Linked DNA regions of Homo sapiens. Each later gene encodes a partner of the first gene's protein in a complex. Links are inferred from orthologs where the notes say so. Each region holds a gene or a part of one and is shown in the gene's direction. Other genes may lie near its edges.

What was found.
Region 2: the proteins of CAST (region 1) and CAPNS1 are in contact, whole or in part, in a crystal structure (PDB 3BOW), measured with the Rattus norvegicus proteins. The link is inferred for Homo sapiens from one-to-one orthologs. Residues at the interface, in NP_445747.2 of Rattus norvegicus: Pro652, Ile653, Asp654, Ala655, Leu656, Ser657, Asp659, Leu660, Asp661; in NP_058814.1 of Rattus norvegicus: Phe103, Leu106, Gln109, Leu110, Ile125, Lys128, Val129, Arg132, His133, Leu136, Phe166, Trp170, Lys174, Gln177, Lys181.
Region 3: the proteins of CAST (region 1) and CAPN2 are in contact, whole or in part, in a crystal structure (PDB 3BOW), measured with the Rattus norvegicus proteins. The link is inferred for Homo sapiens from one-to-one orthologs. Residues at the interface, in NP_445747.2 of Rattus norvegicus: Glu571, Leu572, Asp573, Ala575, Leu576, Asp577, Glu578, Leu579, Ser580, Ser582, Leu583, Gly584, Gln585, Arg586, Gln587, Pro588, Leu596, Asp597, Asp598, Lys599, Val600, Lys601, Glu602, Lys603, Ile604, Lys605, Ala606, Glu607, His608, Ser609; in NP_058812.1 of Rattus norvegicus: Glu62, Leu63, Ser68, Lys69, Gln99, Gly100, Ala101, Leu102, Gly103, Trp106, Lys161, Asp162, Leu165, Leu166, His169, Ser196, Gly197, Gly198, Thr200, Ser241, Asp243, Ile244, Thr245, Asp249, Ser250, Glu251, Ala252, Val253, Val259, Lys260.

What each region holds. Positions count from the first base shown.
Region 1 is NC_000005.10:96,761,699-96,771,282, forward strand, and holds part of CAST (calpastatin), read left to right. Parts: exon of another isoform or gene 1-575; coding exon 576-674; exon of another isoform or gene 675-1,501; coding exon of another isoform or gene 1,502-1,530; intron 1,531-3,522; coding exon 3,523-3,627; intron 3,628-4,354; coding exon 4,355-4,447; intron 4,448-5,739; coding exon 5,740-5,784; intron 5,785-6,099; exon of another isoform or gene 6,100-6,208; coding exon 6,209-6,301; exon of another isoform or gene 6,302-6,695; coding exon of another isoform or gene 6,696-6,733; intron 6,734-8,832; coding exon 8,833-8,904; intron 8,905-9,584. Other genes in the region: ERAP1 (endoplasmic reticulum aminopeptidase 1), read right to left, coding at 6,696-6,733.
Region 2 is NC_000019.10:36,135,043-36,144,769, forward strand, and holds the start of CAPNS1 (calpain small subunit 1), read left to right. Parts: upstream 1-5,023; 5' UTR 5,024-5,115; exon of another isoform or gene 5,116-5,223; intron 5,224-5,947; exon of another isoform or gene 5,948-5,954; 5' UTR 5,955-5,969; coding exon 5,970-6,178; exon of another isoform or gene 6,179-6,522; intron 6,523-6,583; exon of another isoform or gene 6,584-6,636; coding exon of another isoform or gene 6,637-6,641; intron 6,642-7,257; coding exon 7,258-7,291; intron 7,292-7,609; coding exon 7,610-7,699; intron 7,700-7,866; coding exon 7,867-7,924; intron 7,925-8,021; coding exon 8,022-8,086; intron 8,087-9,727. UniProt on the Homo sapiens protein: Regulatory subunit of the calcium-regulated non-lysosomal thiol-protease which catalyzes limited proteolysis of substrates involved in cytoskeletal remodeling and signal transduction. Essential for embryonic development.
Region 3 is NC_000001.11:223,707,308-223,717,202, forward strand, and holds the start of CAPN2 (calpain-2 catalytic subunit), read left to right. Parts: upstream 1-5,231; 5' UTR 5,232-5,333; coding exon 5,334-5,570; intron 5,571-9,895. UniProt on the Homo sapiens protein: Calcium-regulated non-lysosomal thiol-protease which catalyzes limited proteolysis of substrates involved in cytoskeletal remodeling and signal transduction. Proteolytically cleaves MYOC at 'Arg-226'.

The sequences.
Region 1 (9,584 bases):
GTTTCTAGAATATTTAACGTTGAAAAAAAACCCTGAAACCTGACACCGTATACCACAATATACAAGCAATAGTAGTATATCATTTTACACTGATTATCATAATAAAAGTCAAATTCTGGCAAGCAAGGCCATGGGAAAACAGGCATGCTTATTCATTGCTTTTCGCAGTATGAATTCCTAGCAACATTTGAGAGGGCAGTTTAGCAAAATATAGCCAGCACCATAACTCACTCACTAGAACTTATTCAGAGCAATTTTAAAAGAGCTGAAAACTTTGAATAACCTAAATGTACAACAGGAAATGTGTAAACAAACCGTGGAACTCTAAGTTATATTATTGCATAGTATTTAGAATAATCAATATGAGAAGGAAATAGAAATAGCAAATTGTATAAAATAATACAATAGAGAAGAAAGAATTTAAATTTCTTTTAAAATTATATGTTATTATGAGTCTATTTGGTCAAGAGAATAAACAGTCATTAAGCTATCTTTAAGAGTTATAGTTAAGTGATGGCATTGTGCTCATAATTTTATATACAACATGTTACTAATAAAATTTTTTTCAATAAAAGAAATTTGAAGATGCTAAACTTGCTGCTGCCATCTCTGAAGTGGTTTCCCAAACCCCAGCTTCAACGACCCAAGCTGGAGCCCCACCCCGTGATACCTCGGTAAGCAGCACATCTTATTTGGGAGATAAATGTTTTTGCGCAGCCACAACTAGAAAGAAAATAGGGCGCCTGTTTAAAGCAAATGAAAATAGGCAGAATTATTAGGAAGATCAGGCACCTTCTATTTCAGAAGAGCCGAGACTGATGATTTAGCGAGATGGCAGAGATTAACTTTGAAATGATTAAATGAAACTATATATGTGAAAACATTGTACACATAGTCAAGGACCTTAATATTATTGTTGCTTTATAAGAATTGAAAGTGCAATAAAGTGCATTGTGTCTATATTCAAATTACTAGATTTGAAAAGTTCTTTAGCTTTCCTGATAATTGATTTTCTCCTTTATATTTTTTCTTATACATTCTATAATTTACTACCCATTATTTAACCTCAAGTTTATTTTATGGAATCGTCATGTTTGAGCTTTTACAAACATTTTACAAACGTCATGGAATAGCATTGTTTTCTTCCCAATTCACACCAGTAAAAATTTGTCACTTTCATACTAGCAGTAGAAGAACCTCAGCATCAATATTGTTTTAATTATTTACATGCTGTGAGGCAAGGCTGTGGGACCAAAGCTTTTCCAGACTTCCTTGACTAATCACCTGTGCAATACCAAATTATACATTACCAAGGAGACCACAGCACATCAAATTATAAAGGGATTGCCCTAAACCAGATCCCCATCTCCTTTGGTTGAGAACAGTGCCTCATTTGCTAGATGGAGATGAAGTAACTTTAGCGAAGTCAGCTATGCTTCCATTCCGTTTGATGTAGCATCAAAGCATATTTAGTGCTGTAGTCTGAGATTCTGATGGATTTTCATCCTGTTGCGTCAGCTTCAGGATCATCTGAAAATATCCAGAGGCACAAATGACAAAGCCCAGACCTGGCCCCGGGCAGCTCTACCATTAGCAGCTATAATCCTGGATTATAATAAAGCACTTAAAACCAGTAAAATGCCCCGTGTGTGTGTATGTGCATGTGCATGTGCATGTGTGTATGTAAACACACCCACAATGAAGAAAGTCCCCATGCAACAGAAAGGAAGAATCATTAATAGCCTAGGCTGCCGTTTACACTTCAGTTCTTAATATTCAGGCCAGAGATTCTGCCCTGATGAAGGCTATCAGTAAACATTTGCAATCAAAAACTTTTTTGCCTTTAAGAAGTAGGTTTTACAATGACACTTCTCTGATCACATTTCCCATCAGAGAGGCTTGTTTTTAGTTAACATTTTATTTGAAGATGTCACTAAAACAAGGTATAAAGCTTTATTTAGATAAAAATATTAGGAAATCGAAGAGTCAAATAAACCATGATAATTCACGGGAGCTTTCTTTGCTGTGATTATTAGATTGTTACTAACAGTGTTACATACACTGAAAGCATTTGAAGACATGATTTCAAAGATCTGTGTAATAAAATCACTCCAACAGGAAAACTGCTTCAAAGAAAATAGAAGATCATGGATGTGACTAAGCATGACAGGGAAAAGCTTTATCAGTCCCAAGACCTGGGTTCTATTCACTTTTTAACAATTTGTTTTCAAGCAACTGACTTAGCTTCCCTGAGCTTTTTACCTCAAAAAAAAAAAGCCTGCTTAGTTCACTGAGAACCATTGTGGGCATCAAATAAAACTGGATAGTGTATGTGAAAACATTTTGAAAATCAACTGGAAAGTTCTATACAGTATTGGACAGAGTTCAGCATGGTGTCTTATACAATGTAGATATTAAACACATTTTAATTGAATTCATTTAGAGGTGGAATTTTGAATGCAATGTGTTGAAAAATATGGATTTTGCTATAATAATACTAATAATAATTTACCATTTGTTGGGTCCTAACATACAACTAGTATTGTTTTAAATGCCTTTTCAATCATTTACTTTTCTCAGCAACTTAGGAGTATAAGTACTACTATTATTCACATTTCACGGCCAAGGAAACTGAAGCTGAAAGGGGTTAAATAAGCTGCCTGAATCATACAGTAAATAAATGTTAGAGGAAATAAGCTATCTTAGTTACAGTGATATTGTTGTCCATAATTTTTTTCCTCTAGAATACCAGCTCCCATTTCTGCAATTTCACTTCCATGAGCTTCCTGAAGATGAAAAGAGAGGTTTCCCCACCAGTTCAGAAATTCTCTGAAGTCTTTCAGGGCACTCATCACCAGTGTGGCAGACAAGCCCCTTCCACTCTCCTGACCCCAGATTGTCTCTGGGGTTTTGTGCTTTAGGAAGTATTAGGATGGCAGTGCCGAGCTCCATGGCTTCCCACAAACTGCGGGTCACGCTGCACTTTCTGAAATGCACCCCTCAAGATCTTAGAGTTTTAGAGAGGACCCACAGAACCAAAGAAACACTTACCCTCTATAGTTGCAGAATCTTGCTTCCTAACCATCTGACAACATTAGTAGATGTTTGTTTTCATATCCAGTTTTCTAATGGTGTTTAATTTCTAAATGAAAGGCACACATGATTGGTTCATTTGCTTTTGGACCCTTTATGTGACCTCCAGGTCACCCACTGGATATGGCTCCTGAGGCTGCCACTAAGACCTCCTTAACCTGGTGGGATCTTCACCAAGAGATGGGCAGGGTTGGGTGGAAGGTGCTGGCCCTCCAACCCCAGTAGGGTGACAGATACTGCCGCTCTTCTCCTGATCTTCCATTCCTAGGCTTCTCTTCTCTGACCCTGTCTACTCCCCTGCCCCAGCCCCAGATGTCTTTTTCTTCCAAGGAAACAGGTTCCCTCCTGAAAAGATGGAGTTCCTGGGCTAATTTGCCTCTGATACAGTTTGGCTAATGAGTGACTAATTCAGCATTATTTACTTTTCAGCAGAGTGACAAAGACCTCGATGATGCCTTGGATAAACTCTCTGACAGTCTAGGACAAAGGCAGCCTGACCCAGATGAGAACAAACCAATGGAAGATAAAGTAAAGGTAAAAAAAAAAAAAAAAAAAAAAAAAATTCACTAATAGTGAAATTTTAATCCTTGGGTCTTGACTCTGTCATTGTCATAGGAATATTGATGTGAACTTAACCTATATTTTAAACATGAAATTATAATGAAATAGAAAAATCAATCTGTACTCCACTGGAGGGGAAGGTCACTGAATCTGTGACAGAGATACCAGCGGAGCCTCCCTGAGGGGATTCTGGGAGGTAGGTGTGGGGTATGCATGGCTTCCTCCCATGCAACACAAGCAGTCAGCACATCCATTCAAATTAGCTGTTGTCCTTCAGGGTTGCTTATAAATAGGCAAAGTTGTAAATGTGACCTCTCTAAATGGCAAGGTACAGTGGCCTGATTTTGTATTAGAAAAGTGAAACCATACAGAAAAAAAGAAAAAGATATTTTATACCTTTGGGTTCTAATCTCCTAACATGGTTTCTGAAGATAATTATTTAATCATTTATTTCCATTTAAAATATAGCTAGAAAATTCACAGATATGAATTGACATACAGAAGCATACGGGATTTTATATTTTAGCCAACTAGCAGTCTGTTGAAGTCATCTGTGTTGTTCTGTTGCTTAAAAAATAAAAACAGACCATATGTTTTGCCTCATGAAAGTACAACAAATGCTGAATGCTGCATTTGACAATGTATTTTCTAAGTGAAAGAGGAAATGAATATTAATTCTATCTGCTCACTGTTGATATAGGAAAAAGCTAAAGCTGAACATAGAGACAAGCTTGGAGAAAGAGATGACACTATCCCACCTGAATACAGACATCTCCTGGATGATAATGGACAGGTAAACTGAGGCAAATTGCTAGATCGGATTTATGCTACCAAGATCTTTAAATTCAAACCTCCCTTGAAATAAATAGTAGCTATACTCCTTTACAATAGCATAAAACATACCATGACTGACTGCTTCTAATGTGTCACCAAAGCCGACCAGCAGGTAAATATTTATTTGAGCCAATATCATTATATATGCATATGCTAGGCTCTGTGGTATAAACAGGGTTGAATACTGTTCAGTCACTCACAGATGCTTAAGAGTGATCCAAGAAATGTGATTCTCTCTTTCAAGAAAAGGCTATAAAAATGACTAAGGTGATAGGATTTCAAAGGAAGCAATCTCTGTTTAAGGAGAGCAGAAAAGGAGCTGGTGTTGGGATAATTAATAGGGAAAATTAATAAGGCAGCTCCAAGACCTGGGGTCTCCCTATCTTCTCCTGCATCATCATCAGCACTATTGCAAGTGAAGACAGGCAAAGCAATATTCCCAATCACAAATCCTGTTTCTCTGCCAAAAAGTCCCTGGCCTTTTGTCTCCCACATGATAGAGGCCAGTCTTTCGTAGGTCAACCAGGCCTGTCCCCCACCTCTTTCCTATTTAGTTTCTAATTTTTGAGTCAATTAGATGATAAATAACCCTTTCCATGCCTGTTCATCAAATAAGAAACAAGGAAGACCAAATTACACCCTTCTCTTTCTGTACTGATTCATTTTGGTGAGTAAGATGATTCCTGGTTTAAATAGCAGTGTCAGCTTCAGGGTCTCCTATTACAGGAACCAATTCTCCTTGCTTGCATTCAGTATTCCTCAAGATAGCAATTCCACATCCTGCTAGAGCCCTTCCCACTTTGATAGTACCAACTCACCCTGCTTGCGTTCTTTGGGAAATTTATTATTTAAGGCCCTTGCCTTTGAAGCTGGGAAAAATCCCTGATGACTTTCTAAGTGTAATAAGCTATAGTAAATAAGATGTAAAAACACAAGTAACTTTTTATAACACTTTAAGTAGAATTATAAGTGATAATACATGATGGCAGAAGGTTCACAAATAGTGTTTCTTTCACTTCCAGGACCAGACCCTTTCATATGTTTCCCCCAAGTCTACACAAATGATTATAAAGAATAGTAATTAAGCAAAGCTGGTAAAGAAATAGTGGGGACTCAGGTTTATTAGTTATTGCAAGTCTACACTCCATTTTATCCAAGTCAAGTCATGGGACAATAGATTCTCTACTGCCTAAACCTAAGTAAACCTTTACAGATATCTATGCTTAACCAATAGTCTGCCTTCTTTTTAAGGACAAACCAGTGAAGCCACCTACAAAGAAATCAGAGGATTCAAAGGTAAAGACCATAGGAACATATTTCCATTAAATTTTGTTTTATTCTAGCCATAGGGGTATTTGGCATTTTAGAAAACTAAAACATATTGAATGCCTACTCTGTGCCTGGTACTTTGTCAAAGCATGCATATAAATGTGTGTGACTATTGTTTACCTCTCTTTTAGTCTTCACAAAAGCCCTTTAGGGTGGAAAACTGAGGCTCAGAGAATGCTAAGCAACGTGTATTAAAGAGTAGATGGAAAAAAAGCCATCAAGATTTTCTTGTTTTTCTATCTCCTTTACAATACATTATTATTAATAAAGAATGTCAGTCAGTTTTTTTCTTATAGAAACATCTTTTATTTGTAAGTGATGTGGGAAAAGACCCCATATTGCATTTTGCCTTCTGCTTCTTCACTGATGGTTATTTCTACTCATATCTCAGAAACCTGCAGATGACCAAGACCCCATTGATGCTCTCTCAGGAGATCTGGACAGCTGTCCCTCCACTACAGAAACCTCACAGAACACAGCAAAGGTACTGTGCTTTTTCACATTTCACTCTTTGAAATGTGTGTGTGTGTATGTGTACATACATATAAGTTTTATTTATTGATTGATCTATCTATCGGTCTGTCTTGTAACAGGGTCTTACTCTATAGCCCAGGCTGGAGTGCAGTGGTGTGATCTCAGCTTACTGCGATCTCTGCTTCCTGGGCTCAAGCAATCCTCCTACCTTAGCTTCCTGAGTAGCTGGGACTACAGGCGTGCACCACCACACCCAGCTAATTTTTGTATTTTTTTGTAGAGAGGGGGTTTCGCCATGTTGCCAGGCTGGTCTCGAGCTCTTGGGCTCAAGTGATCTGCCAACCTCTACCTCCCAAAGTACTGGGATTACAGGCTTGAGCCACTGCGCCTGGCCCTTACAATTTTTAAACTGTAGAATGAATCAAACGATGATATAGAGAACCTGAAAATGAAGAAAAGAAAAAATGCCTATAATTCCACTGCCCCCAAAACAGTATTATTTTGTGGATTTCCTTTTTTTTCTATATGTATATTTTACATAATTATACTTACAGTCCACTTATAAAACACTGCTTAACGTTATTTCTTAACTGCTACTTTGTAATTTCCATAGCCACCATTTTTTATCTCCACACTATATGGTTGTGCCACAATAATGCTATGTCTGTGTTCATTTAAAGTGAGAGCAGGCCCTAACTACATCAGGCACTCTCATGCTCATTTGCTCTCTGGAGCTTCCTCCCCTTTTCTGTCTGCTTAGCCCAACTGGTCTACTCTTCATTCCTCAGGGCACAGCTCAAGCATCAGCTCCTTAGGGAAGACTTTCTTGTCTTACATCTTCTCCCTTCCCAGTCCAAAGTTAGAGGCCTCTCTTCCATGCCCTCCTTGCTCTCTGTTACCTCTCTGTGCTTGTGTATCACACCACTGAGCTACGCATTTCATACAGTAGTGATGTGTCTTTTACCTCTGTGCTCCTCATTAGCAAAATGCCTGGTACTTAGCAGGTGCTCAAAACGTGATTAAAAGTGAATGAGAAACAACTGTGTAATTCAACAAGTGTGAGGCATTTTCCCTCAAGCTACACCCTCTTGTAAATCAAATAGAAGGAAACGTGAAATGAGTACCTCCTTGTTATTTTCAGGAGAGTTAATTCTGCAGATCTCAGTTTGCTATTGTTTTGGCTGTTCTAAGGCACTGCTCTCGATCACTGAATTGTCAGCCCTTCCATACTGGGTAGCTTAATTTCTAGACCACTTCAGCATCCTATCTCTCACCCCTGGTAACTCGTAAGTAATGCCTTTTTTGGTGAATGGACTTTATTTTTATACGTAACCTGCTCCAGCTTTCCTCGGTTGTTTCCCATTGTTCATTTCTCTCCCATAACACTGAAAACAGGGTTTTTTTTTGTTTTTTTTTTTTTGCCTTTTGGTACACAAAAGCCAGTCCTGATCGAGACAAGCTCTATTTTGTTTTTTAAATACATTTTATTGTGTATATTTGAGGTTTACAACATGGTAGTTTGGGATGCATAGAAATAATAAAATGGTTACTGTAGGGAAGCAGATTTACATATCTATCATTCTCACACAACTACTTTTTGTGACAAAAGCAGCTAAAATCTACTTAGTTAACAAAATCCCTAATACAATTTTATTAACCTTAGTCCTCATGTTATACATTAACTCTCTACACTTGTTCATTCTGCATATCTGCTATTTTGTATCCTTTGACCTATATCTCTGTTTCCTCCTCCTGTTCCCTACCATGGTCGCCATGTTTTATTCTCTGTGTTTTTGAGCTTTTTCTTTTATATATATTCTACATATAAGTGAAATCACTTTTCTTTCTGTGTCTGGCTTATATCATCTAGTATAAGGTCTTCCAGGTCCATCCATGTTGTGACAAATAGTAGGATATCGTTTTTTAAGGCTGAATAATATTCCATTATGTATATATACATGACATTTTCTTTATCCATTCATCAACAACTAGGTTGTTCCATATCTTGGCTATTGTGAGTAATGTTGCAGTGAATATGGGAGTGCAGATATCTTTATAAGGTGATAATTTCATCTCCTTTGGGTATATACCCAGAAGAGGGATTACTGGGTCATACAGTAGTTCTACTTTTAATTTCTTTAGGAACCTATATACTGTTTTCCATCATAGCCCATACCAATCTACATCCCCACTGACAGTGTACTAGGGTTCCCTTTTCTCCACACCCTTGCCGACATTTATTATCTATTGACAAGCTCTGTTTTGATTAGCAAAATAAGGTCTGGGTGAGTCAGGCACCACGGGAATTAGAGCATCAATGTCACCCACATTTCCCTCCTTATTTCTATCCTTTTTCCCTCCTGCTTTAAACAATTCTCTGACACCGTTGTTCAAAAAAAATCATGAAAAAACACCCAAAGTCTTCCATTATTTAATTAAATTGGAGATCTCAGAATGGTCTGGATTAATTTAACTGCAGCCTAGTTAATTGCTAGATGGATTGGTGATAGCCATAGCCTCATTACATTTCCTTTGCTTTAGGATAAGTGCAAGAAGGCTGCTTCCAGCTCCAAAGCACCTAAGAATGGAGGTAAAGCGAAGGATTCAGCAAAGGTAAATGGAGCAGTAAATATACTACAAATTAGTTTAGCAGTTACACAGAGTAGGGTTTATCATTTCAGTCATTTAGTTTCCTACTGGAATCTATTTAGAATAAAATTTCTTAAAGTACTATCTATCCCATAGCATCGCTTGGTAAAGTAATTGAATTTGTATAAATACATATATTTTTAAGTAACTGGTGCTTTAAAATCCTAAATGAATGTTCTTGACACAACCCAATTTGCCTGTGTTTTGCCTGTCTTTCTTGCCCTAATTAAAATACCACCATAGTATGTGGTTTATATAGATTTTAGAACATGGAAGTTGGAAACTTCCTATTATTAAAATTACTCAAGCTGTGATGAGAAATGAAAATTGGATTAGACAACTTCTAGGTCCCTTCCAATTCCAAGAACATATGATTTAAATGATTATTACTATGATCCCCTGGCTATAAGGAGGAGTTAAAGGTGTAGCTTTAAAGACAATAGTCCAGTTACACCAAAGCTTTTAAAACAATATATTAAAATCTTCCTGTAGTAGATTCCCTTAAGGGATATAGGAAACAGCATTGATAATTGGCAGTTATGCCATTATATCTCAGTTTAAATACTTATTTGCCTATTATTTAATTTCAGTTATACGAAGTACTTAATCAGCCCTTTAACAAATAATAGAAAGCATAATAACCC
Region 2 (9,727 bases), on another chromosome or scaffold:
GCCTCCCGAGTAGCTGGGACTACAGGCACATGCCACCATGCCTGGCTAGTTTTTGGTATTTTTTGTAGAGATGGGGTCTTGCCATGTTGCCCAGGCTGGTCTCAAACTCCTAGGTTCAAGCGATCCTCCTGCCTCAGTCTCCCAAAGTGCTGGGATTCCAGGCATGAGCCACCGCACCTGGCCCTGTTGTGAGAACTTCTGACTCTTTCCTGGAGTGGGGTGCAGCCAGGGCAGGGCTCTGAGCCTACAGGGCCCTGACCTGACTCAGGTGGTCTCAGGCTTCCTCTGGCTCCACAAGAGGAGCAGACAGCAGGGAGCAGACAGAAGGGAGCAGGCTGTGGGGTGTCCAGGTGGGAAAGGATGGAGGCTGTGGCAGGGTGGGGACAGTGGAGGGGAAGAGTTTAGTTTCTGTAGGTGGAGCCAATAATATCTGCTGACAGGTTGGAGTGGGTGTGAAGGAGAGAGGTGAAGGACCACCCCGGAGTGTTTGGCCTCAGTCACTGGAAGGACAGAGCTGCCACTGACCTAGGTGGGGAAGGTAGTGAGGGAGCAGGTTCTGGAGGAAGGTCAGAAGCTCAGTTTAGGATATGTAAAGCTTAAAATGCCTCTAAGGGCCAGGTGCATTGGCTCACACCTGCAATCCCAGCACTTTGGGAGGCTGAGGCGGGTGGATCACGAGGTCAAGGGATTGGGACCATCCTGGCCAACATGGTGAAACCCCGTCTCTACTAAAAAATACAAAAATTAGCTGGGCATGGTTGCGCATGCCTGTAGTCCCAGCTACTCGGGAGGCTGAGGCAGGAGAACTGCTTGAACCTCAGAGGTGGAGGATGCAGTGAGCCGAGATCGCGCCACTGCACTCCAGCCTGGTGACAGAGCAAGACTCCGTCTCAAAAAAAGAAAAGAAAAAGAAAAAGGAAAAAAAAAGCCTCTGAGATCTTCCATCCTTTCCCATGGAAATGGTGAATATGATGCAGGATGTAGGAGCCTGGAGTTCGCAGGAGGTGTCTGGGCTGGAGATAGAAATTTGGGGGTTAGGGTTAGGGCCAGGTGCAGTGGCTCACGCCTGTAATCCTAGCACTTTGGGAGGCTGAGGTGGGAGGATCACTTGAGCTCAGAGTTCAAGACCAGCCTGGGCAACACAGTAAGACCTCATCTCTACAAATAATTAAAAAAGAAAAAAGATAAAGGAAATTTGGATGTTTGCCGGGCGTGGTAGCTTGTGCCTGTAGCAGTAGCTATTCAGGAGGTTGAGGCAGGAGGAGGATTCCTTGAGGCCGGGAGTTACAGGCTGCAGTGAGCTACATCACATCACTGCATTCCAGTCTGGGTGACAGAACCCCTGTCTCTAAGAACAACACAAAAAACTGGGCGTTGGCCGGGTGCTGTGGCTCATGCCTGTAATCCCAGCACTTTGGGAGGCCAAGGCGGGTGGATCACAAGGTCAGGAGATCGAGAACATCCTGGTTAACACGGTGAAACCCCGTCTCTACTAAAAATACAAAAAATTAGCCAGCGTGGTGGCAGGTGCCTGTAGTCCCAGCTACTCTGGAGGCTGAGGCAGGAGAATGGCGTGAACCCGGGAGGCGGAGCTTGCAGCGAGCAGAGATCGCGCCACTGCACTCCAGCCTGGGCGACAGAGTGAGACTCCATCTCGAAAGCAAAACAAAACAAAAAACTGGGCGTTGATAGCCTAGAGACAGGATTTAAGCTGTGCATGTAGGGGAGGCACCCCATGGCATGAGTGGTACAGAGAGGAGGATAGAGACCTAACACCTGGGGCTGCCGGGAATAAGGGGTTGGGGGCCAGAACTAGATGACAATATGGTTACGATTGGCAGTGAGTGCCATGAGAAAGTACAAGTCATTTTGAAAGCATATAACTGGAAGCCTCACCTAGTCTCAGGTTGGGTGGAGACAGGGAGGTCTTTCTGGAAGAGATGACTCCTGAGGTGACACCTGCAGCCTGAGTAGCTACACAATCAGGCCAGAAAAAAAAAGGCAGCAGGGGAGTTCCTGGCCGAGGGCATGAGGGCTGGCAGCAAGTGAGCCTCGGGAGAGGGCAGAGAGCTGGAGCAGTCAGTCTGGCAGGGAGGGGTGTGGTGAGAAGGGAATCTGGATTAGTCATCACCAAAAGATCTGTGCCAAGCCCGGGTTCAGATCTGGTTCTGCCACCCTCCGTGACCCTGCCTTTCAGAATCTCCATTCTCTCTCCTGCCCTGCAGACAAGGCTTGTGTAGCAGTTACCTTGGCCTGGCCCCAGCAAGGCCTCAGGAAACATCAGCTGCAACTAGTTTTGTCTGTTGTGATGTTGTTATTTGACCTATTATATTAATTATATTATTAACGCATAAGGGTAGTGGTTAAGGATACAGGCTAGGGAGAGTGACTGCTTGGGTTTAACCTCAGAGTCGGTTTACTTATCTGTAAAATGGGGATAATAAATAGCATCTATGTCACAGGGCTGTTAGGAGAACAAGGGAACTGATGGACGTCAAGCACTTGGAGGAGTGGTTGATGGTTACTTGTTTTTGTATCTTTTTTTTTTTTTTGAGACAGTTTCGCTCTTGTTGCCCAAGCTAGAGTGCAATGGCACGATCTCGAGTCACTGCAACCTCTGCCTCCCGGGTTCAAGCGATTCTCCTGCCTCAGCCTCCCGAGTAGCTGGGATTACAGGCACACGCCACCACGCCTGGCTGATTTTTTGTATTTTTAGTAGAAACAGGATTTCACCATGTTAGTCAGGGTGGTCCCAAACTCCTGACCTCAGTGATCTGCCCACCTCGGCCTCCCAAAGTGCTGGGATTACAGGCGTGAGCCACCACACCTGGCCTGTTTTTGTACTATTTAAGGAAGACTAAGAGTCTACCAGCTGAGGAATACAGCTGGCCTCGAGGCTGAGGGAACAGCATGAGCACAGACACAGAGCTAATGGGGGCATTTACAAAGCATTTATCACCAATTTATTTATTTATTTATTGGAGACGGAGTTTCACTCTTGTTGCCCAGGCTGGAGTGCAATGGTGCAATCTTGGCTCACTGAAACCTCTGCCTACTGGGTTCAAGCGATTCTCCTGTCTCAGCCTCCCGAGTAGCTGGGATTACAGGTATGCACCACCACATCCGGCTAATTTTGTATTTTTTAGTAGAGACAGGGTTTCTCCATGTTAGTCAGACTGGTCTCGAACTCCCGACCTCAGGTGATCTGCCCGCCTCAGCATCCCAAAGTCCTGGGGTTATTGGCATGAGCCACTGTGCCCAGTATTTATTTGAGACAGAGTCTCGCTCTGTCACCCAGATTGTAGTGCAGTGGCATGATCTCGGCTCACTGCAACCCCCGCCTCCTGGGCTCTGGTGATCCCCCCACCTCAGTCTCTAGAGTAGCTGGGACTAGGCGCATGCCACCACATTCAGCTAATTTCTGTATTATTTGTAGAGACAAGGTCTCACTATATTGCCCAGGCTGGAGTCAAACTCCTGGGCTCAAGAGATCCTCCTGCCTCAGCCTCCCAAAATGCAGGGAATACAGGCATGAACCACTTCACCCAGCCACCACTTAAGTTTTTTTTTTAATAATCAGTATTGCTGCAGATATCATTTAATTTTGATAGGGGGCCTAGTGGTATGGAGCAACCCATGTTCCCATTTTACAGATGAGAAAATCGCTGCTCAGGAATATCAAGCCACTCTTTTGGGGTTGTGCAGTTATTACAGGGCACAGCCAGGATTCAACTCAAGCCTAGCCAGCCTGCAGGGTAGGGGATAAGAGCCAGCCAGCCTGCCTGGGGGCCAGATTTAGCTCCCCCCGATGAGTCCTGAAAAAGTACTGGACTCCCGTGGCTCATGCCTGTAATCCTAGCACTTTGGCAGGCCGAGGCAGGTGGATCACCTAAGATCAGGAGTTTGAGACCAGCCTGGCCAACATGGTGAAACCCCGTCTCTACTAAAAATACAAAAATTAGCTGGGTGTGGTGGTGCATGCCTGTAATCCCAGCTACTCGGGAGGCTGAGGCAGGAGAATCGCTTGAACCTGGGAGGCAGAGACTGCAGTGAGCTGAGATGGCGCCACTGCACCCCAGCCTGGGCAACAGAGCAAGACGCTGTCTCAAAACAAAAAAAAAAAAAAAGAAAAGAAAAGAAAAGAAACCAGGCTATGTAAAAATATTATTGTAAAAAATTAAATTAAATCAAAAAAAGGCCGGTAGCCCATACCTGTAATCCCAGTACCTCACAGTACTTTGGGAGGCTGAGGCAGGAGGACGGCTTGAGGCCCGGAGTTCAAGAGCAGCCTGGGCAACATAGCGAGACCTCCGTCTCTATTATGTAAAAACAATAATATTTTTTAAGTAAATAAAGAAACCAGGCCGTGGCCAAAGGAATCTTCCTGTGTCTGGGGCCTTCTTTAGAGGCTAGCATACTGAGGACACTCTTTGGGCCAGTCCAGGAAGGAATGATTCTGGTGGCCCCTGACTGGGGCGGGGGCGTGGTAAGGTTCGCCTGGGAGGCGGCGCAGGCGCTGCCTGCGGTTTGACTGCCATCCGGGCTGCTGCAGGCACTGGGAAAGGCAATCCAGCCTCAATCCTCGCCACAGACACGGGCGACTGTCCCCCAGCGTGTGAGTCAAACCATACTCCAGGCCTCCAGGAGGTGTTTGTCGCGACAACACCTGCAGAGGGCCCGTGCGGAGTCCCTTAGTGAGCGGACCGAAAACCGCCACCCTGGAAGGATATTGGCATGCCCTAGGGTGAAAATTCACACTACGACACTCGGGGGGTGGGTCCCCTCCGAGTTCTCGTCCGCGGGTGCCTCCACCCAGACCTGAGGGGTGTCGGGAAGACCCCCGCCTACCGAGTCAGGGCGGGATTAAGACCTCCGGCGCTGGAAACGCGTAGGGCGGGGCCCAGACCTGGATCCAGCTAGCCGGGCGGTGTGGGGTGCGCATGCGCAATGTCCGCTTCGGCTCTAGGACCGCGCGGGCGACAGCAGGGCCGCGGTGCAGTGTCCGACCCGAGAGTTGCGGCCTGAGTCACCGGCCCCGCCCTCCGGAGCCGGACGCTGCGGGAGGCCCGGGAGCGGCAGTGGAACCGACTCCCAGAACTCCGGACGTGTGCGGCGGTAAGCGCCCGGCCCGTACCCCCTCCGCACCCCGCAACTCCGACTTTGGCGGCCCCCAGACCCGGCGAAACCGTGAAGTCTCGGCCTCAGGAGCCCCCCAGATCCATGGTCTCAGATTCGAACCCTCAGACCTGTTCGATCTCCTTTTATGCCGTCCCGGGGACCCTTCTCCACCCTCTGTCTCATGATCCAAAATACAGGCCCATAGGTTTCAGAGATACCCTGTGAATTCTTCCTTGGGGTGTCCTGAACCGCGATCGTAGATCTGTGCCCCCAGTTCCAGCGGGGAACCCCATTGTCCGGGAACCCAGAGCTCACAGCCACGATCTTAGACCCGAGCCCACAGAGCCAGAGGTGACACTGGAATCCTGCCGCTGGGAATACCTAAATTCTCAAGCCCACATTTGGGATTTCCTAAACCCCGCCCTGGGGCCCTTTAGGCCGTGGATGTTTGCTCCGCGCCCATGACCTGCCAAGGACCTCTACATTCAGGCTGGGCTCTGGATCTCACATTCTAGCGCCCAGACATGTCGGGAACGCCTTACGCCAACTTGGGGTCCCCACCAAGAGAACCCCCACCAGATCTGCACCCTCCCCTTCACGCGTGCACCCAGTCCAGGCTCCCTCAAGCCCCACGGGTGCCTTTTAGACCTGAGGAGGTTGCAAACCTGATCCCCCATACCTGCCCCACCCATCCGCGGACAACCCGCCCTCGCAAACTCAGACCCCCACCCGGAGGCTTCAGATTCCTCCCAGGTCCAGCTGCCGGAAATGCGTGTTTGAAGGGAGGGTGTGGGCTCAGGGGCGAAGCACCCACTGGTCCCCTTTTTTCCCCCCAGCAGTGAGTCGCAGCCATGTTCCTGGTTAACTCGTTCTTGAAGGGCGGCGGCGGCGGCGGCGGGGGAGGCGGGGGCCTGGGTGGGGGCCTGGGAAATGTGCTTGGAGGCCTGATCAGCGGGGCCGGGGGCGGCGGCGGCGGCGGCGGCGGCGGCGGCGGTGGTGGAGGCGGCGGTGGCGGTGGAACGGCCATGCGCATCCTAGGCGGAGTCATCAGCGCCATCAGGTAAGGCGGAGACTATCAGAGGGGCGGGGCCTGGGAATGGGAGGAGCCTCAGTGAGGCGTGGTCTGGGAGGGGCGTGGTCTAAAAATAGAATAGGATTAACCTGGAGGCTAACCTGGGTACATGAATTAGGCCGGGGAGGCCTGGTTTGAGAGTTCTGCTGTAAGGGGGTGGACCCCAGTGAGGCGGATATCAGTCATTGGGGGCGGTGCTTGATATGGGAGTAGTCTGATTGTGTGGGACCAGGACAATGTGGTCCTGAGGGGACTGATGTGGAGTTTTGGCGGGTGGGGCTTATGGGTCTGGGCTCAGCCTGCATTGGCTAACCTGGAGATGAACGTTAAAGGTGCGGAGCCAATGCGTCTGAGTGACATTTTACGGAAGGGGCTTGACTTATGAGTGTGGTCAGAGGTTTTAGGTGGGTTAATGAGGAGGTGAGCCCAGGAGGAAGCAAGACCTAATGGGGTAGGGTAAATGGCCCAGAATGGGCTGGGCTTGCTGGGAACTGGCTGGATTAATGGAGAAAAATGCCCTGGTAGGGATAGGGCAGGTTGGCTTAATTAGCCACGGCCACTTAGCAGTGATCCCTTGAAGGGGCGGGGACCAATGGCTGGGGTAGGATGTTGGGAAGACGGGCATTTAGGAAGCGGGCCATGGAGTAGGGTCTTGGGCAGATGGCACCTGAGGAGGATAAGGCCTTGGGAAGCTGGGGCAGAGCCTCTATGAAGTGAGCCCTCCAAGGGGCGGGGTCTTTTGATTCTACGTGGGATTTTTTAGGTTTAGGGTGGCCAAGATGACTGAAATCTGCCACTGGGTAGGTGTGCCTGGCAGGAGGGGAGCCTCCCAGGGGACCGGTCTCTGGGTTTCCTCGAGGGTGGGGTTGGCCTGAGGAAGGGAGAAGAGGGGCACGACCAGGGCAGTGTGGATTGGGACAGATGAGGACAAGAACAAATGAAAGGCACAGCAACCAAGTAAGGAAGATAACGGCTGGGGTCTGGAGCGTTGGGGCTGATGGTTCTGTAGTGCTGCCCGTTGGAGGCCCCGCCCCTGGCACTAACCCCTCCCCCTTATCTCTTCGCAGCGAGGCGGCTGCGCAGTACAACCCGGAGCCCCCGGTAAGCCCCCTCTGCAACCAGACCCCCTTCTCCTGCCAAGGCCTCTTCGAGGTCCCATCCCTGTTCCTGTAGAGAAGCCCCACCTTCCTCCCCTTCTTGTGAAATTCCTCTGCCAGTTCCTCCCATGCCGTGTCTGCAGCTTCGCCATGGGTCTTAGCCATGCCCCACATACGTGCACCCCATTCACTACCACCCCTCATTCTTTTCCTCATCAAGCTGCCCAGCCCACTCTGACTTCCCCACCCAGGGTACCTGGGTTTGGGGAGCCGTCCTGGCCGGGTTCCCCTCCCCCTGCTCTGAGCTCTCCTCCCTTTGCAGCCCCCACGCACACATTACTCCAACATTGAGGCCAACGAGAGTGAGGAGGTCCGGCAGTTCCGGAGACTCTTTGCCCAGCTGGCTGGAGATGTAAGTAACCTGGGGTCCCTGGCCCCGTCCTAACCGTTCCATCCCTTCCCTTGTGGCTGCCCTTGCACACACACCCTTGACCATGACAATCCCAGTGTTCCCATTCTCCATGACATTCTCAGACCCCTTTCAGTCACCCCTGACCTGCCCCTAACTTCCGCCCGCAGGACATGGAGGTCAGCGCCACAGAACTCATGAACATTCTCAATAAGGTTGTGACACGACGTAAGTGACCGGGGTTAAGGAATAGGGTAGATTCAGAGGCAGAGGGGTCAGAGAGGATTTGACCTCTGGCCTCTGACTTTCAACCTGTTACCCACAGACCCTGATCTGAAGACTGATGGTTTTGGCATTGACACATGTCGCAGCATGGTGGCCGTGATGGATGTATCCTTGGGGGCAGTGTGGGAGAGGCCCTGGGTGGACAGAGAGTTTTTTGAGAGTATGTTTGGGAAGCCAACATGTAGCTTTCATATCCACAGATGTGGAAATGCATTCATCAGAACACAGTCACCTGCAGACATGTGGCGGTAAATCATAACAATGCCAGCTGTCACAGCTGGCACTTTAATTATATAAAGTGACCGAACCGTCATAACCACCCTGTTGGACAGGCACAATTATTATATTCCATTTTACAGAAGAGGAAACTGAGGCTCAGTTTCCTGAAAGAAGCAGTCATTTGTCTCAAGTTATAGATAAAGGTCAGGCATGGTGGCTCATGCCTGTAATCCCAACACTTTGGGAGGCTAAGGTGGGCAGATCACCTGAGGTCAGGAGTTTGAGACCAGCCTGGCCAACATGGTGAAACCCCATCTCTATTAAAAATACAAAAATTGGCCAGGCACGGTGGCTCACACCTGTAATCCCAGCACTTTGGGAGGCCGAGGCGGGCGGATCACGAGATCAGGAGATTGAGACCATCCTGGCTAACACAGTGAAACCCTGTCTCTACCAAAAAAAAAAAAAAAATTAGCCGGGCGTAGTGGCGGGCGCCTGTAGTCCCAGCTATTCGGGAGGCTGAAGCAGGAGAATGGCGTGAACCCGAGAGGAGGAGCTTGCAGTGAGCCGAGATCGCGCCACTGCACTCCAGCCTGGGCGACAGAGCCAGACTCTGTCTCAAAAAATAAAATAAAAATAAAAATAAAAATAGGCCGGGCGCCGTGGCTCACGCCTGTAATCCCAGCACTTTGGGAGGCCGAGGCGGGCGGATCACGAGGTCAGGAGATCGAGACCATCCTGGCTAACACGGTGAAACCCTGTCTCTACTAAAAATACAAAAAAATTAGCCGGGTGCAGTGGTGAGCGCCTGTAGTCCCAGCTACTCGGGAGGCTGAGGCAGGAGAATGGCGTGAACCTGGGAGGCGGAGCTTTGCAGTGAGCCGAGATCGCGCCACTGCACTCCAGCCTAGGCGACAGAGAGAGACTCCGTCTCAAAAAAAAAAAAAAAGAAAAAAAAAGAAAAATAACAATAACAAAAATTAGCTGGGCGTGGTGGTGCACGCCTGTAGTCCCAGCTACTCGGGAGTCCCAGCTACTCAAGCAGGAGAATTGCTTGAACCCGGGAGGCGGAGGTTGCAGTGAGCAGAGGTTTCGTCACTGCACTCCAGTCTGTGGACTCAGGTCTTTTGGGCTTGAGAACCCACGTTTATAACAGCCACATGCGCATATACACACACACACACCTAAGAGCACACCCACATACGTGAAGGTGTATGAGGCAGTGTGCACAGGGACACACGTGTTATCTGTACATGGGCCAGCCATTAGCTGATCTTGGATACATGCATATTTTTATTTATTTTTGTTTTAAAAAATATTTTATAGAGAAAAGCTTTCACTATATTGACCTGGCAAGTCTCAAACTCCAGACCTTAAGCAATCCTTCCGCCTTGGCCTCCCAAAGTGTTGGGATTACAAGCTTGAGACACTGCGCCTGGCCTCATGCACATTTAACACATAGGGCAAACAGACACATACATAATATACATGTCATGTAATCACAGACATATTGCATAGAGCAAAGCA
Region 3 (9,895 bases), on another chromosome or scaffold:
CACAAGGTCAGTGGCCCAGACCCAGGCAGTTCTGGATAATCCCAGCTGTTTCTGACTCACCACCATCCTCAGGGCTGGCTGACTCACTCCAGGAAGGTTTTCCACCATGAAGTGTTTGTCTATGTCCTTGTGTTCCCGTGAAAAGGATTGTGTGGTCAGAGAAAGAGAAGACTTTGCTGGGTCAGTGAGATAGCATAGTGTGAGAGGCTTTGGGAAGTAGAAAAAGCAACATTAACTCAGGTTTAAAAACTAGACTTTGTCCAAATGGTTGGGGAAAGTAGTCATTGTATGTGTTTGCAATTAAATTTGGGTGGCATAGGACAGCCTAAAGCCCTTTGTAAGCAGAGCTCTATGTGCGCAGCGATCCCTAGAAGGCTGGCAAGGGGAGTGGCCAGGGCTGCACCAAAGAGGGTGTTGCCTAGCTGGGGAAGAGGAACTTCAGGTGAGCCAGGAGGCTCTTCTGCTCCCAGGCTGTGCAAAGCTTCTGAGTTGACTGGAATGATAGGTCTGATCTGCCCATTTGTTGCTAAAATGACTTAGGAGGGAAATGACCTCCACCTGCCTGGGAGGAGTCACTTCCTCCAGAGATGAGCTGTCCTTGAGGAGATCAGTGGGAGGAGAAGCCTGCGCTCTGCCCCACTGGGCAGAAGGACAAGCTTTCTCCCAAGAGCCTCGAGCCCAGAAGAAGTCGGGGTGGGGCCAATGGAAATCAGACAGTGGAACAAATGAACAGCTTCCAGGACAGGGCTGTCGCTTTCCTCTGTTTTCAATTGTGATGGCTTCATGAAACCCTTGCACCAGAAACCCATGAGCTAGAAATGAATGCCTGTATCCCCATCTCTGGACTCAGAGTCCAGAGTGCCAACCATTACACAATGGAACCTGTGTCCCCGCCTTATTCAAGAGTAAAGAAAGCAAAGCCTGGTGGTGGACGGTGGTACCTGCCCATCAGGCAGCATGCCCAGACTTGCAAACCAGAGATGGAGGATGTCAAATAAAAACAAAACCATGGGAGACTGAGGCAGGAGAATCACTTGAACCGGGAGGCGGAGGTTGCAATGAGCCAAGATCGCGCCATTGCACTCCAGCCCGGGCAACAAGAGTGAAACTCTGTTTAAAAAAAAAAAAAAATCCAGACTTTTATAAAGGGACACTTCAATAGAAAGAAAGACTATTGCAGGCCAGGCGCAGTGGCTCACACCTGTAATCCTAGCACTTTGGGAGGCCAAAGCAGGTGGATCACCTGAGGTCAGGAGTTCAAGACCAGCCTGGCCAACATGAGGAAACCCCGTCTCTACTAAAAATACAAAAAAATTAGCTGCACATGGCGGCTGGTACCTGTAATCCCAGCTACTCAGGAGGCTGAGGCAGGAGAATCACTTGCACCCGGGAGGCGAAGGTTGCAGTGAGTGGAGATTGCACCACTGCACTCCAGCCTGGGCAACAAGAGTGAAACAAGAAAGAAAGAGCGAAAGAGAGAGAGAGAGAGAAAGAGAGAAGGAGAGAAGGAGAGGAAGGGAAGAAGGGAGGGAGAAAGAAAGAAAAAATAGAGAAAAAGAGAAGGAAGGAAGGAAAAGAAAGAAAAGAGAAGAGAAAAGAAAAAAAAAGAGAGAAAGACAATTCCAATTCAGAGAATCTGCAAGCAGCTCAAAATCAAACAGAAAAAGATTCTTCTTTTCTAGGGTAAAGGAGGAGCAAGTGGAGATAAGCAGACTCTTGGGAGGGGAAGCTGGACAAGTGAGGGGAAATGACCAGTGGGAGCTGACAGGAAAAGGGTCTTGCTGTGTTCAGTCAATTCCCAGGAGAAGCTGGGCAGGGAAGTGACTTGGCAGGGACACTCCACTTTGTTTGTGCTTGTTCAGGCTTGGGGGCAAGCAGCATTCAGGGATCTGTAGGAAAGAGAGAAGTCTGACCAAAGTTTTGTCAAGCAAAGGGGGTAAGCAATGGGTGTCAGAGACAAGAATAGATGGGGGCAGAGGAATAATAGTGACAAAAATACTTGCTTTAAGAAAAGGTAACATCATGGCTCTCATATTAGTATAAAATAAACACATTTTAAAGATTCCATTTCGGCAGGGTGCAGTGGCTCACACCTGTAATCCCAGCACTTTGGGAGGCAGAGGTGGGCAGATCACCTGAGGTCAGGAGTTCGAGACCAGCCTAGCCAACGTGGAGAAACCCTGTCCCTACTAAAAATACAAAATTAGCCAGGCATGGTGGCAGGCACCTGTAATCCCAACTACTCGGGAGGCTGAGATAGGAGAATCACTTGAACCTGGGAGGTGGAGGTTGTGGTGAGCCGAAATTGTGCCATTGCACTCCAGCCTGGGCCAACAAGAGTGAAACTCCATCTCAAAAAAAAAAAAGAGTCCATTTAACTTGATTAAACGAGGCAATCTGGTGGATGTTATAACTGGTTCAAAGGAGAAACCAAAGCAGCACAATTTACATGACGTGAAGAGTACTGAAATGGAATATGCAACTAGACAAAAAACTGGTCTCTCTACAGGGGGACTGTAGTGCCTCTACTGGACAGAATGCATTTGCATATCTATAGGAAAAATTATTTTCCATTGCTACAGTTATCTACAACTTAGATTACTTACTTAGAGTTACTTAGGTAACTATACATTGCTACAGTTATATACAACTTAGAGTTATAAAATAACTCAAAAACAATGAAAGGGGCTCGTGTGGTGGCTCACACCTGTAATCCCAACACTTTGGGAAGCTGAGGCAGGCGGATCACCTGAGGTCAGGAATTCGAGACCAGCCTGGCCAACACGGTGAAACCCCATCTCTACAAAAAATATAGAAAATTAGCCAGATGTGGTGGTGTGCACCTGTAATCCCAGCTACGTTGGAGGCTGAGGCAGGAGAATCGCTGGAACCCGGGAGGCAGAAGATGCAGTTAGCTGAGATCGTCAAGATCCTGTCACTGCACTCCAGCCTGGGTGACAGGGTGCTACATCTCAAGAAAAACAAAAACAACAACAACAACAACAAAAACAATGAAAGGCTAGACCCAGATCTTCTGGAAGGAGATGCTCTAAACCAGGGTTTCTCAGCCTCTACATGACTGATGTCTTGGACTAGATCATGTTTTGGGTGGAGAATGTAAACCAAAAATAAAATTCTAAGCCTCCCCCTCCCCTACCCCCGCCAACCATCTAAATGGATGGTTCCTCCTTAGCCGAGGCTCTTAAAATTTTAACCTGAAATTTTCAGGCCATGAAGGAAAGGCAAGGTCGGACATGCTTCATTATACCTCTCCAGCGTGAACATCAACCAGAGTTTAGGTCTGATAAGAAACATTTTACTGCCTGTTCACTCTGAAGCCTGCTAGCTAAAAGCTTCATCTATGTGATAAAACTTTTGTCTCCACAACCTCTTATCGCAACCCAAACATTCCTTTCTATTGATCCTGGGCCTTTAGACAAACTCAACCAATTGTCAACCAGAAAATGTTTAAATATTTACCTATATCCTGGAAGCCACCCCCACTACCCACCCACCACCCCCCGCCACTTTGAGTTGTCCCGCCTTTCTGAACCAAACCAATGTATTTCTTAAATGTACTTGACTGATGGCTCTTGCCTCCCTAACATGTATAAAACCAAGCTGCACCCCAACCACCTCGGGCACATGTCCTCAGGACTTCCTGTGTCACAGGTGTGCATCTTCAACCATGGCAAAAGAAACTTTCTAAATTAAATGAGACCTGTTTCAGATTTTCTGGGTTCACAAGAGCTATCTTGGACATTGGAAGATGTTCAGCGGCATCCCTGGCTTCTACTTAGTAAAGGCCAGTAGCACCTCATCTCCTAGCTGTGACCATAAAAACTATCTCCAGACATTCCCAAATGTCTCCTGGGGTGGGTAGGGGACAAAACTGCCCCCAGTTGAGAACCACTGCTGTAGACCATGCACAGTTTTCCAGTGAAACCCAAATTCTTCCCTACTACTGTAGAGAAGAAGAGGAGGTAATTTCTGCCCATCTGCATTTCTTGGCACGCACCCATGTCTCTGTGTGTGAGATGAGAATCACACCCTAGCTCCACAACAGAGTGGTCACAGTAGCCAACACAGGCAGTATTCTAAATGCTCTCTCCCTATAGTAACCCAACTAATCCTGCCAGTTAAATATGAGTTTCAGGTAAACAATGAATCATATTTTCTTTTAGAATAAGTATGTATGCCCATGCAATATTTGGGCCCTACATATACTTTAAAAGTATCTGTTGTTTATCTGAAATTCAAATTAAACATTTGGGAGGGTTGTTGTTTTATTGGCCAAATCATTTTATTTTATTTTATTTTTGATATGGAGTTTCGCTTTGTCACCCAGGCTGGAGCGCAGTGGCGCGATCTCGTCTCACTGCAACTTCTCCCTCCTGGGTTCAAGCGTTTCTCCTGTCTCAGCCTCCCGAGTAACTGAGATCACAGGTGCCTGCCACGACGTATTTTTAGTAGAGACGGAATTTCACCATGTTGACCAGGCTGGTCTCGAACTCCTGACCCCAGGTGATCCGCCTGCCTCCGGCCTCCCAAAGTGTTGGGATTACAGGTGTGAACTACCGCACCCAGCCTTATTGGCCAAATCTGACAACCCTATCTATAATCAAATAAACAGCTGAGCAGTAGTAATTGCAGCATTGTGATTGCAATAGGCCTCCGGTGGCTTAGAGTCCCTGTTCTGCCTGTGACTGTTGTGCCACATTGGGGACGTCATTTAGCGTCTCCGAGGCTCAGTTTTCTCATCTGTAAAATGGGGACAATATCAGCGCCTTCTTCAGAGTCGCTGGGAGGATTAAATGAGATGATGTATGCAGAGCCGTTAAGACGCTGTTTGGCACAAAGTTCAGGGCAGCTGGTTTAGTTTCCTCGACTTCACTACCTGACCCTCTGCTAACTCCCCGGGTGTTTTCCGGACGGCCACAACTATCCTAGCCTTCTTCCCTATGGGCTGCAAAGGTGGCCTCGGGTTCCGGTGGGAGCCCCAACTCTGGACCGCGATTCGCGAGCCTCCCCGGCGCCGGGCCGCGCCATCCCGGGAGCTGTCCGCAGATGGCAGCACCGGCCCCGGGTCGCGGCGTTCCCGGCGCTCGGCAGGCCGCAGGATGGCCTGGTCCCGGGCCGGGAGCCCAGCAGGCCGGGAGCGGCTGAGGCCACACCCCGCGGGCCGGGCCGCTTCCCTCCGGTGAATCATCGCTCGCAGCGGCGGCGCCCGCAGTGGCCGCAGCAGCGCGCCGGGCCCTGGCCGCGCCCCAGCCGAGCGCAGCGCGGAGTCGCCCCGACCTTTCTCTGCGCAGTACGGCCGCCGGGACCGCAGCATGGCGGGCATCGCGGCCAAGCTGGCGAAGGACCGGGAGGCGGCCGAGGGGCTGGGCTCCCACGACAGGGCCATCAAGTACCTCAACCAGGACTACGAGGCGCTGCGGAACGAGTGCCTGGAGGCCGGGACGCTCTTCCAGGACCCGTCCTTCCCGGCCATCCCCTCGGCCCTGGGCTTCAAGGAGTTGGGGCCCTACTCCAGCAAAACCCGGGGCATCGAGTGGAAGCGCCCCACGGTAGGAAGCGCGCGGCAGGACGCGGGCAGGGCGGGGTGCCGGGCAGGGCGGGGTGCAGGCCGGCCCGCGGCGCGCTGGGGCGGGGGGCAGCCCGGGTGCTGCAGTGGGGAAGCCGCAAGCCAGGACCTCGCAGTCCTGCGACACCTCCGCGCCGCCAGAGCCCGGGACTCTGTTCGAGCGTGGGGGGACTCCCGGGGCCTTCCCTCTCTTCCACCCACCACGCTTTCCTGGGCGGGTCGAGGCGAATCACTGCCCTCAGATCCCACTAGCAGGCCACTTTAGGACTTCACAAAAACTCAGGGTGATGCAGGAGGCCGGGGTGAAACTTTGATTGGACTCTAGCGGGGAGCTGGAAGGGAAGGGGAATCGGGTCTGCAGGGAAGGGACGGTGAGAGGCAGCATCTACCAGACAAAGTCCGTCTCCAACTGGGGTTCTGTCTGTTCATGGAGGGGGACAGGCCATAGCCTGGTCATTTTGTGACTAAGGATAGTCTCCTGCAGCCCTGGGGTTAGATTTATTTTTCCAAAGGGGAGCCAGCGATACCTCCTCATAACATTGACACTGGTAATTAACCCAGGACACGGAGGTGTCTCATGGTTTCCCTGGCGGGAATCACCCGGGAAACCTCCGGGAGCCCTCCAGACCCCCTTATCCCGTCCCCCAGGGTCTCTGACCTCCCGGCCCTGGGACAACTTGTGCTCCCCAATCTACTTGTCCATTCTGTTTCTTGGGGAACCCCTGAGGCTCCTCCTCCTTTGGGACACTTCCCCAGGCTTCCCCTACCACGCCTAGGAAAGCCTGCCCTGAAGTCCAACTTCTAGATTCCTGTTGTGAGAACAAGGCTTCCAGCTCTGCTTCCACACCCAGCAGCCTCCCAGGTCACCTTCTGTTACCCTAAATCCAGCCCATAGGTAGCAAGGGCTGCAGGAAGCGCCCTAGCCCAGACTCAGAGCACTTGGGTTCTTCTTCTTGCTAACCTGCTGGTGACCTTGAACGAGCCATTTAACCTCTCTGTGCCTCCATGTCTTCATCTAAAAGAAAACATGCTGCCTAAATATTTTCTCTCTTTTGTGGCCCACTAGGCCCTGCCGTCATGGCCTCCTTTCAGTCTCTCAAAGAGCCGGTTCTTTCCTGCATGAGGCCTTCTCACCAGCAAGGCACGCTGTTACCTGGAGTGTGGCTCACTCTCATTCTTCCCAACTTAGTCACATGTTCCCTTCCTAAAGAGGTCTTTTCTGACCCTTCTTAGCAGCCACCTCCCCACCTTGTTTTTCTCTGTCACCCCACTCATTTCCTTCATAGCATTGTCACAGTTTAGAATATAATCACATGTATTTGTTCTTCCTACTGAACTGCAGGAATCATGTGTATATTATTTACCAGTATATCCCCAGTGCCTGACACATAACCATGCCTTTCACAGTATTCATTCATTCATTCATTCATTCATTTACTCACTCATTTGACAACACTGATTGAGCACCTGTTACATGCCAGGCACTGTCCTGAGAGCTCAGGAGATACACCAGTGAACACAAAAGAAGTGACTGTTTGTAGAATATGGATGCAGGATTGTAATGTGCCTCAAATGAAATTATGGTTGTGAAAGTGATACGCTGACCTGACTCAGTGCCTCACACCTGTAATCCCAGCACTATGGGAGGCCAAGGTGGGAGGATCGCTTGAGCCAGGAGTTCAAGACCAGCCTGGGCAACACAGTAAGACTTGTCTCTATAAAAAAGTAAAAAAAAAAAAAAAAAAAGTGAAACACAAACCAAGAGAATGTGTTCACTTTACATTTGCATGGCACTTTACAGTTTACATAGTGAGTTCACATACTCATTCACTTATTCTTTCATTCATTCAGTAAGCATTTCTCGAATACCTACTATATGCTGGGCACAATGCATATGGTTTCTGCTTCTGAAGACTTACTTCTGAGGCTAGTGAGGGGACAGAGACAGGTCCCCCAACAGTTGGAAATGCCTGTGGGACTTCCAGATGAGGATGTAGAGGTCTAGAGATGATCTAGCGCCACTGCTTAGGGCAGGCGGGCTGTGCACTGCACAACTAAGGAAGAGTGTGACTTTTACGATCCCCATTTGCCAGTTGAAGAAATTGAGGCTTGGGAAGGTTAAATACTTGCTCAGAGTCAAGTGGATATAGGGCATAGATCCAGGACTGTGTGTAGTCTGTGCATGTTGAGCCTACCCCTTATGGCTGCGCTCTCTGCCTCCTTCCTACCTTCTCAAATGCTGCTGAGGTCAGGCAAGGGGAGCACAGTTGTTTCCGCTGGATTTGAACACTAGCAAGTCATTGGTGAGTTTAGCAGAGCAATTTCAATGGAAAGGTGAGAGTAGAAGCCAGATTGTTGTAGACTCCAGAGTAAAGGAACTGGAAATTAAGAACATGATCAACTTATTTAAGAAGGACCCCCGGGAAGAGAGGAGAACTGATAGGTAGAGTAGGACCTGGACTTTGAGAGCCTGTGTTTTTTTCATATGAGAACAACTTGAATGTGTCATATGTTGAATCACCAGGAAGAAGGGATTAAAGATAAAGGCAGGGAGGGGGCAGTGAAACAGGATCCCTGAGGAAGTGAGAATACGGGTTGTGGGCAGGGGAGGGGAGCAGGTTAGCCTTGCAGCAGGAGGAGCTGCTCTTCCTCGGAGAGAGGATTTCACAACACTGGCAAGAGTGGCTCCAGTGCCTGGAGCGGGGATTAAAGCAGTAAGTCCAGTGGGGTCCAAGGGCCATGCAGGGGTACAGTGAGGAGAAAGCAGGTGTGATCCGGGTGGCACATCAGATCCTTCCAGCAACCAGTCTGTTAGGAGCAAGGGCAGATGTTGTGAGCCCCTATGTTTCCCCCAAGAAAATCAAACCTCTGAGAGGTTTCTCACTTGCTTATCTTCAGCTGGCCGAACTCAGCCTCAAACCCATATGTCCTGTCTCCAAGTTCAGTGACTGTTATCATCAACTTCTTCAACAGTAATAATAATAGATCACATTTATGGAGTGCTTGCCAGGGCATGTTTACATCATTATCTCATTTAACACTCAGAACAATCCTCTGTGGTGGGTGTTTTCATCGTTCCCATTTTGCAGGTGAAAAAACTGAGACTTCAAAAGGTTAAGTGACTTCCCAGGGTCCTACGACCTACATAATAAGTGGCAGAGCCAGGATTCAAACCTAGGTTATCAGAATAATGCAGCAAAGCCCAAACCCTCAGCCCCTTTTCACTGACTGGTAAGACCCATATTTAATTCGATGCCCTACATGCCGTGCACAAGTTTCAGTTTTCTGAAGCATCGCTTAGATGCTTAGGTGTTTAGCACCACTCTGAACTCTGACTTTTCTAGAGAGGCTGCTAAAGGCATTAGAAAGTTTCTGAAGTATAATGGAAAAACCCTGCTGGAGTAAGTGCCTGGCACACTCAGGATTATCAGTGTGATTCTTTATAATAAACAGGCTCCCAGCACCAAGCCCAATCTATTCCATCAGCTGGATAAGAGCTCTCTGGCAGGCCTTGGGCCAAGCTGGCTTCCTTTGCCTCAGCAGAAGAGCATTCTGATTCTCTCTGCCATCCCCAAAACTGACAGGAGCAGAGAGAAACAAGGCAGAGGCATGAAGGGAATGTCCTCTGCGGCAGATGGTGCTTCCGGAAGAGCTCCCACAATCTGAGCTAGAATGAACAGGGGCTAGATCCAAGTCTCATATAGGCATACTTCTGCTTGACAGAGTGGGCATGCCGAGGGCCGTTGGGTGGAGGCAGGCGTGTGCAACCCAAGCAGACATGAGACGCAGCTCCTTCAAGGCAAGGTTGCCTGAGCCCAGAGAGGCTCAAATTTGTGCCCCAACTTCCTCTGTGGCTTTTGGGTGGGGCTCTTCAGAATCGAAACACACTCAGAGGGCTGCTGAAAGGGCTAAGAAGTGTTCAAGGTTGGCTTCCATCAGGCTGCTCATGACAATGGCCCCTGAGGTTTTAACACCCTTGAACGCTTGGTACTAAATCAATTAGAGGCAGGGCAGGAGCAGAAAGAGTTGGCGCATTTGATCAGTAAGTTCCAATGCCAGTGCTGTCTATTATCTGTGAACTGTGTTAACTTTGGACACGTCACTTCACCTTTTTGAGCTGTTTCCTCGTCTGTAAAAGGGGGATAATACCCATTCCATGAGGTAAAGCTTTGAGCACAGTCTCTGATGTAAGCAGGTACAGAATATATAGATGCTGTAAGTTTCATGGTCCCATGGAAGAATTCAAAAGGGTTAGATCCCGCCTGCCCTCAAAAGGGTATGTGTTAGGAAATCAGAGTAATACCTAAG